Linked DNA regions of Homo sapiens. The protein of the gene in region 1 purifies or fractionates together with the protein of each later gene. This does not show direct contact. Each region holds a gene or a part of one and is shown in the gene's direction. Other genes may lie near its edges.

Evidence for each region.
Region 2: the proteins of RFPL2 (region 1) and PHLPP1 purify together in Homo sapiens (affinity purification with mass spectrometry; 3 studies listed by BioGRID and IntAct, with this or other methods). This does not show direct contact.
Region 3: the proteins of RFPL2 (region 1) and WDR73 purify together in Homo sapiens (affinity purification with mass spectrometry; 3 studies listed by BioGRID and IntAct, with this or other methods). This does not show direct contact.

Annotation. Positions count from the first base shown.
Region 1 is NC_000022.11:32,192,366-32,195,091, reverse strand, and holds part of RFPL2 (ret finger protein-like 2), read left to right. Parts: intron 1-601; coding exon 602-747; intron 748-1,899; coding exon 1,900-2,190; intron 2,191-2,726.
Region 2 is NC_000018.10:62,973,996-62,977,653, forward strand, and holds part of PHLPP1 (PH domain leucine-rich repeat-containing protein phosphatase 1), read left to right. Parts: intron 1-1,401; coding exon 1,402-1,630; intron 1,631-3,658. UniProt on the Homo sapiens protein: Protein phosphatase involved in regulation of Akt and PKC signaling.
Region 3 is NC_000015.10:84,641,403-84,644,309, reverse strand, and holds part of WDR73 (integrator complex assembly factor WDR73), read left to right. Parts: intron 1-586; coding exon 587-840; 3' UTR 841-2,907. UniProt on the Homo sapiens protein: Component of a multiprotein complex required for the assembly of the RNA endonuclease module of the integrator complex. Associates with INTS9 and INTS11 in the cytoplasm, stabilizing the INTS9-INTS11 heterodimer and blocking the active site of INTS11.

The DNA of each region.
Region 1 (2,726 bases):
GGTTGATTCAAATGGAAGAAAGCACAACTCACTTCACGGGTAACAATTTTTATTTGAAAACACAGGTTTCACAAGAAAATCATCTTTTTTTTTAAATTGTGACTTTTATCTTAACACTCTGTGAAGTACTCAAGGTCCAAGAAGCTTAATGGTCATTTGTCAAAATAGTAATTATCTAATTTTTTCCTATGAATTATGAAATTTTTTCAAAGCCGGAAATAAACCAATGGAAACAAATAAAAAGTACCTAGAATTTCCTCAATGGAATGCCTGCCCTTATTACCTTTGAGTCTGATGTATATGAATTTAAACCATTTTGTAAAATTGCAAATCCAATCACACTTAATACTTTAGGATTCCAAGCAAAGCTTGAAGCCTACAACATATTACAGGAATTATCTTTACTGACAACTGATGGAAACATCTCTAAAATAAGCTTTTGAAGTTAGTACATTAAGCCTAATTTAATATAAAGGCAATTTAATCTTACCTTCATATGAAAGAAAAATACACTGTCAGGATGAAGGATTTACTGAAGTTATAATTAACTGGAGATATATCACCAGTAAAAACCTAATTCCCTGTTATAATTAAATCAAAGCCTCATCAGGTTAGAGGGTGTGGAAGGGCGTGACCCAGTGGGAGGTGGGAATCTCACCAATAAAAGGCCCTCGTGTGCCCCTTCCCCACAAGACCTGAGCGCCCAGTGGAAGCAGCTGGAGGACAGAGGAGCTTCCAGCAGAAGAGGTGAGCCCATGCCTGTGTGTGTGTTTTTCCTCTTAGATGCCTAGAAATGGGGGTTATGACTTGGGGGGATGAATGAGAGAAATTCGTAATTAATGAATTCAACAAAGGCCGTCTGAGTGCTGCCTCAGAGTTGGAAACCAGTCACCCTGGATCCCCAGTCTAGGAGTGTAAGAGTGGTGGCAGTCAATTTGGTATTCACTTCCAAGGCTGGAGAAGGATGTAATTTTTTTTATTTTTTTATTTTTTTATTTTTTGGTGAGACGGGTCTTAACTCTGTTGTCCAGGTTGGAGTGACTTGGCGTGATCTCTGCTCTCTGCTAATTTTTGTATTATTTGTAGAGACAGGGTCTTCCTGTGTTGCCCAGACTGGTCTCAAACTCCTCGGTTCAAGGGATCTTCCTGCCTCGGCCTCGCAAAATGCTGGGATTACAGATGTGAGCTACTGCATCCAGCCCCTCTTTTTTTTTTTTTTTTTTTTTTTTGAGATGGTGTCTCACTCTGTTGCCCAGGCCAGAGTGCAATGGCAGGATCTCGGCTCACTGCAACCTCTGCCTCCCAGGTTCAAGTGATTCTCCTGCCTCAGCCTCCCAAGTATCTGGGATTACAGGCATGTGCCACCACGCCTGGCTAATTCTTTTGTATTTTCAGTAGAGATGGGGTTTCCCCATGTTGGTCAGGCTGGTCTCGAACTTTTGACGACCTCAGATGATCCACCCACCTTGGCCTCCCAAAGTGCTGGACAGGCATGAGCCATCGTGCCCGGCCTCCCAGCCCCTAATTCTTATGTTCATCAATCAGTCTCTTGCTGGGGTTCCCCTAGGAGGAGGTGAAATGACCCCAGCTCGCTGTTCCTCACATGGGTGCTGCCATGTCACTGGCTCAGGCTCAGCTGCTGGGTCACCAGGAGAATGGACGCTTCCTCCACCTCAGCTCAGAGCACAGTGATGATTCGTGACTTTCCCAATAGAACTTCAAATCTCTGAAGACGGGGGGTGGGGGGATGTGCTTGAGTGTTTGTACTCATGGTCTTATTCTCGGAGTGACAAAGCTGGAACACAATACCTCTATGCATGAAAAGGTTGTCACTTGTCACAACTAACAGGCTTTCACCTCATGGAAATTTTTTTACCTTGTGTACTTTTCCCCTGGCAGTGGACATGGCTGCACTCTTCCAAGAAGCAAGCAGCTGTCCCGTCTGCTCAGACTATCTGGAAAAACCAATGTCCCTGGAGTGTGGATGCGCCGTCTGCCTCAAGTGCATTAATTCACTGCAGAAGGAGCCCCATGGGGAGGATCTACTTTGCTGTTGCTCTTCCATGGTCTCTCGGAAGAACAAAATCAGGCGCAATCGGCAGCTAGAGAGGCTGGCTTCCCACATCAAGGAACTGGAGCCCAAGCTGAAGAAGATTCTGCAGATGAACCCAAGGATGCGGAAGTTCCAAGGTAAGGCATCTGTATACCCTGCCCCCTTCCCAAGACCAGACCAGGAAAAATCATTTGTGCAGTTGGCCCCTCATTCCACATGGGGATTAGCTGCTGTCTGGCACCTAAAATTGAGATGCTTCATCATCAGATTCTCAGCCCTGACAACATACAGAATCACCTGGTGATGTCAAAAACAAAAACAAACAAAAACCCGATGTCTATGTCATGGGTTAGACAAGGGATTCTCTAAACTTAGTGTGCTCAGATTACCTGGGGATCTTGTTAAAATGCAGATGCTGAACTGGGAAGTCTCAGGATTGATCCCACTGGCTTGGGGACTTTGCTGAGTAGCAAAAACATAGAGCAACTGAATTTGAATTTCTCTCTAGCAAAGGTTCCCAGGACTCTAACATTAAAATGGGCCTGGTAATTCTAATGCACGGTGAATATTGGCACCCATTGTACAAACAACCTTACCCCAGGGTTGGGAAGAGTTGGGAATGGAGCACCTATGGTGTTTGTTTCTGTGAGTGTGGGGAGAGTTTCAGACAGTG
Region 2 (3,658 bases), on another chromosome or scaffold:
AAACAGCAAGCATGTATCATATGCACACACATACACATGTGCATACAGACCACAGCACAAACACATCCCTTCACAACCCCCAAAAGGTCTGCTTTTTATGCACCCTCAAGCACTGGGTAAGAATTAAAAACTGAGAACCCCAGTCTCGGATTACTTGCTATACTTTTTACAAATCACTGTGCCTGTGAAAGGGAGAAAGTAGAGATGCCTTGGAAGGGTCTAGAGCCAAATATCTGAAAGTTGGAGTTTAGGAACCTAAACTATAGGCCCTTCTCCAGGGTCTTTTGTATGTCTCTTATTTTCCCTATCTGTTAAGAGGGTACGGGTTGTGTGGTGAGCTTTTGGTCCTTAGGGGAACTGGTCTTTGTGCGGGATTTCCTAATGCATGCAAGTAGGCAGCCCTGGTTTCCATTGCTCTTCTTGCCAGTTGCTTACCTTACACACGTGATAGGAGCAGACAGTACCTGAGGGTCTGCCCTTGTAAAACGGGAGGCTGTTTTTCTTAACTTTCTTGCTCCTGTACCACTCAGGAACAGCAGGGGCCTGGGCAGTGTTACCATTTGTGGGGCTTGCCATAGTTGTTCATGAGGCCATGGGAGCAATAATGGTCTTTTGTCCGTCTCTGCCATTTCTCTCCCTTGATAATCTGCCAGAACAAGTAGCTTTGTAAGAGGGGTTTTTGATTTTTGATTTTCAGAATTTGCAGGTGCTTTCTGTATTTGGTAGGTCTGTGGATTCTCATGATTAAAAAGATAAATCACAAGCACTTGGTATTTGATTACTAGAATGTCCTTTCTATGAGTTTTCTAGAATAGATGGTGCTGGTCCAGAAAGTCTTTACTATATAGGGCAGGAACATGAACACTCCAATACTTCAAGGCTGCTACCAGCAAACACCCTTATAAGGGGGAGAGGGTTGTCAGGTTTTTCTAAAGTGTGCCTGTCAGTGGGGTAGGGTGTTTATACCTGCTCTTACATACATGGTTTTTTCAATGTTCCTTTCCTGGGGACAGAGGGGATTTAGAGAAGCAGATGGAGAAAGAAGTCATTTTCCTGCTGTCTTTGGAGTGTGCTGATAGGGCAGTGTGGTTGATGAGGGTAGCAGGCTGTACACAGCAGCCCAGGGGCACCCGCCTTCCAGAGCAGCACCTGTGGCTTTTAATGGTACAGTGATACTGTCTTCCAGTTGTGAGCCTCTCTGTGTGGATGTGTGTGATGTCAGATTCAGGGGCTCTTTTCATCAAAGAGGCAGAGCAGTGTGTGCTTTGATGAAGGAGGCGGAGTGGAATCCCCAGCTGTCTCCTTCCTGGCCCTGTCCAGTGGTGCGGTCTTGCTGTTGAATTTGCAGAACTGGCACTGATGGGCTGTGTTTGAGTGTCACCCCCTCTCTTCGGATTCCAGGAAACTTGGAACTGCTGGGCAGAAGCTTGGTGGTGCCGCTGTCCTTTGTCATATCAAGCATGACCCTGTGGATCCAGGAGGATCCTTCACCTTGACCTCTGCTAATGTGGGCAAGTGCCAAACAGTTCTCTGTCGAAATGGAAAGCCGCTGCCTCTGTCCAGATCTTACATCATGAGCTGTGAAGAAGAGCTGAAGAGGATTAAACAGCACAAGGCCATTATCACTGAGGTGAGAAAACAGGGGTGTTGCCCAGGATGGTGGAGAGGAGAGGAGAGGAGACCAGGTCATAGCAGAAACTAGCTAGGGAGCATTTGCCTTCAAAGAACACTTTTGAAGTTGGTTTGACATTAGAATTCCAAATCCATAGTATCACAAAGCAGATGTCTTACATTATGATGTATATGCTTGTTGGTTGCCTCTCTGCATCAGGCACTGTGCTGCGTGCTTCATGGGCATGATCCCATTCCATGTTTGCAGCCACTCTGCAGAGGGCTGCTTTGGTGGTTGAGGGCTCTACCCCTGACATCACACTGCTAGTTTTCATATCTTAGCTCTGCCACTTGTAGGTTGTGACCTTTAAACCTCTCTAAGCCTCAGTTTTCTCATCTGTAAAGTGGGAATAATCATGCATCTGTCCTATCTTACAAGGTTGGTATGACTTGTAAACTATGAACGTCTATGTAAGTGTACTAGTTGTTATTTTGGTTCATACCTCATGTCCCATTTGAGTACACAGTAAGCAGTTTTCAACTGGGGGCAGTTTGCTTCCCCACAAGACATTTGGCAACATATGGAGACATTTTTGGTCATCACAGCTGGGGCGGAGAGTGCAATTGACATGCAGTGGATTGAGGCCACTGAGCATCCTACAGCGCTGCTAGGACAATGCTGCTCAACACCCCACAATGCACAGGGCAGTCTCCACAACACAGACTGTGGTGTGTGTGTTTGGAGGGCGTGTCTCAAGGAAGAGAAGTAAAATACAATACAAAACAAAACCTCGTTGTTGAGTATTAAGCAATGCAAACAAAAGCAGGGAAGAGGCGAGGCACAGAAAACAAGAGAAGTCTGACGTGCAAACCATGATTCATGTAGGTCACAGAAATCATTTACCTTCAATTGTGTTTGGCATAATGTTGAACTAAAGTTGAAATCAGTGCATTCTGTACACATTAGACTGTCTTCTGCTCCCTAGCACAGTGTCTACCATCCATGTGCATCCTCTCTGCTCCAAGAATAGACAGAGAACAAATTCACACAGACTCATTTGCACAGAATCCCATGTATAGCTTGAGTCTTTCTGTTTCTTTCTTAAGGCCCTCATCAAAGCCTGTGTGGAGTCAGTCTTTTTTCTCTACTGGACTATAAGCTTTCACCAGAGTCCACCCCAAACTGTACATGGTTCTATGGGTTTTATCAACAATGTAAGACTGGAAACCTCTTGAAGGTAGATGTTTCTTTGCAGGTCACTGCTGTCTGCCCACGTCATTTTTTCAGGCACAGGGCAGATGACTGACACTTTGATGAATTAGCGAATGGAGCAGAACTCCTGGAGCCCATGGTGGAAGCTTCATTGCTCATGAATCACAAAACCATTGGTTTTGATAGAGAGAAATCTAAAGGGATGGACAGAACAGCAAGAACAGTTTCTGCCAAATTCCATGCTTTGGGGACAGATTATGTCAGTAGAATCAAGGCAGTTTAAGGTTGTGCTTGAAGCCCATCTTACTAATTTTACTAATAGGAATGCTTACCTGCTTATAAGTGTGGTGTGGCAAAGTTGTGTGAGAAGCTGGGAAAGACATCCCTAGGACAAGTAAACACCTTGCCAAATCCCAAATAAAGGGAAGTGGTAGGACTGGAAAGGAAATGGATATTCTGTGGAAGAAACACTTTGTCATCCCAGACAGGGATTTGTCATAATGAAGCCTTTCCTGGAAAGAAGTGTTAAAACTAGGGCATGTAGAGGTATGTCATGGACCTGAGAATCTCAAAATTTGAAGAATAAAGAACCAAGCAGGTACACGTGGCAAAAAAAAAAAAAAAAAAAAAAAAACCCAGGTCTTTTTATTGGCAAGTGGTCTGGCACTTTGGTAATTGATTTAAATAGCATGCACACAGCTGAACTAAAGCCAGCAGATCTTGCCTTCTCCATTGGTCAACAGGAAATCAAGTTCAAGGAAGTTGTAAGAATTGGCATTTCTTCTTTAGCATCTGTTCTCCTGACATGAGCATTCTTACCCACCTAGTCAAACC
Region 3 (2,907 bases), on another chromosome or scaffold:
TGCAGGGACGTGAAGGTATTTCTCTCCAAAGGCTTCTGTTTCCCCCATCGAGTAGGAGACAAGGCCATCTGCTGAAAGGGACCCAGAGGTAGGGGACTGGACTCTGGGGCAACTTGAAAAGGTTTGAAGAAGTCTCTTAAGCCTCAGTTTCCTGGGTAAAATAACAGTATCTGTGTCATACAGTTCTGAGGATTAAAAGAGCTAATACTTGTCCAGAATTAGCCTTCGAGCCTCACGCATAACAGGTGCACAACGGATGCTCATGGTTACATGCCCCACGGAGTCATCAGCTGCCAACACTGAGGGCAGATGCTACTTGCCCGTGGTTAGCCTTTTAAGTGCCTTGATTCCTCATCCAATAGCCTGTTTTGGTACCATAGAACAAATTATAAAAAGTATTTTAGGGGCTGGGTGCCTGTAATCCCAGCATTTTGGGAGGCTGAGATGGGAGGATCGCTTGAGGCTAGGAGTTCAAGACCATCCTGGTCAACATGGTGAAACCCCATCTCTATTAAAAATAGAAAGAAAATTATTTTAAAATAAAATTAGGGACTCATTGTCAAGCCTCTCTTTTCTGTATTCTCAGGTTTTGATGGTACAGTCCAGGTCTATGATGCCACATCTTGGGATGGAACACGGAGCCAAGATGGAACACGGAGCCAAGTAGAACCTCTCTTCACTCACAGAGGTCACATCTTCCTAGATGGAAATGGGATGGACCCTGCTCCTTTGGTCACCACCCACACCTGGCATCCCTGCAGACCAAGGACTTTGTTATCAGCAACAAATGATGCCTCTCTGCATGTGTGGGACTGGGTGGACCTTTGTGCCCCCCGCTGACACCAGCATCTTTCCATCTAGGCCTCTAGAAAGGGGAGGAGCTGCTGTAGTAGCAAGGGTGCTCATGTAGGACTCAAGTGACTACCAGTCCCTGTTACCAGCTGTGTGGCCTTGGGCAAGTCTGCCAGCGTCACTTAGCCTCAGTTTCCTTATCTGTAAAATGAGGATAGTAAGAACTACCTCGTAGTGATATTGCGAAGGTTAGAAGAAACGCATGGCATAATTACTTGGTAGCTATTGTTAGATCTGGGAGTGTGAAATGGTAGCGTTTTGTCCCTGTCTTCACACTATCATAGGGAGAATCAAAAGAGCTAACAAATATAAACATGCTTTGTGAATTTTTTTAAAGAAAAAAATGTAGAGGGGCCAATAAACATGAAAAAATCCCAGCCCTAGTAGCAATTAAGGAAATAGCAAAACAGGATTTCTGCTCCTCTTGAGTGGGTCTCATGGGAACACAGGTGCACTTTCCCACACTTGTCCCCCCAGGTGACTAGGTTCAAGAGACATTTGCTTTTGGTGGCCCCACAAACATTTCCTTTTGAGGGCCCATAGTGAATATTAAAGTGTGCTGGACATGGTGGCTCATGCCTGTAATCCCAGCACTTTCAGAGGCTGAGGTGGGCAGATTGCTTGAGCTGAGGAGTTTGAGACCAGCCTGGGCAACATAGCAAGATCCCTTCCCTTAAAAAAAAAAAAAAATTTGGCTGGGCATGGTGGCTCATGCCTGTAATCCCAGCAATGTAGGCAGCCAAGACAGGTGGATCACTTGAGTCCAGGAGTTCGAGACTAGCCTGAGCAACATGGCGAAACCTTGTCTCTACTAAAAATACAAGTTAGCTGGTTGTGGTGGTATGAGCCTGCAGTCCCAGCTATTCAAGAGGCTGAGGTGGGAGGGTTGCCTGAGCCTGGCAGTTGAAGTTTGCAGTGAGCTGTGATCATGCCACTGTATTCCAGCCTGGGCAACAGAATGAGACCCTGTTACACACACACACACAAAATAGATAAGTTGTTCACTCTGTCAGCATCTATTAGCCCTTCCCATGTGCAACACTAATTACATGCTAGAAATACATAAATGAGAGGCTTCCTAAGGTGGTTGAATTTTTTTTTTTTTTTTTTTTGTAGTAGAGATGGAGTCTTGCTCTGTCACCCAGGCTTGAGTGCAGTGGCGTGATCTCGGCTCACTGCAACCTCCACCTCATGGGTTCAAGCAATGCTCCTGCCTCAGCCTGCCAAGTAGCTGGGATTACAGGCACGTACCACCATGCCCAGGTAATTTTTGTATTTTTGGTACAGACGGAGTTTCACCATGTTGGCCAGAATGGTCTTGATCTCTTGACCTTGTGATCTACCCACCTCGGCCTCCCGAAGAGCTGGGATTACAGGTGTGAGCCACCGCGCCCGGCCAGGGGATTTCTCCTGTGTGAATTCGCTGGTTAAGTGATAATTAACTGCAGTTAAAATTCAGGTCAAGCATGTGGCTCATGTCTGTAATCCCAGTACTTTGGGAGGCTGAGGTGGGAGGATAGCTTGAGTCCAGGAGGAGTTCGAGATCAGCCTGGGCACCATGGTGAACCCCTGTCTCTAAAAAAAAAGAAAGATTTTTATTTAAAAAACCTAAACAAATTCAGATAGGAATTTAAAGATAGACCAGGCACAGTGGCTCACGCCTGTAATCCCAGCACTTTGTGGGGGGCCAAGGTGGGTGGATCACTTGAGGTCAGGAGTTCAAGACCAGCCTGGCCAACATGGTGAAACCCCGTCTCTACTAAAAATATAAAAATTAGAGACGGGCATGGTGGTGGCACACCTGTAATCCCCACTACTCAGGAGGGTGAGGCAGGAGAATTGCTTGAACCTGAGAGGTAGAGGCTGCAGTGAACCGAGATTGTGCCACTGCATTCCAGCCTGGGTGACAGGGTGAGACTCCATCTCAAAAAAAATAAAATAAAGATAAAATCATAAACACTCATAATTCAGTTATACCTTTTTTCAAGTAACTAAAGTTCAAACTTACTTAGGGGAACAGGCTTTCCTGGGTGCCACCTGCTTCTCAAGTCCTGT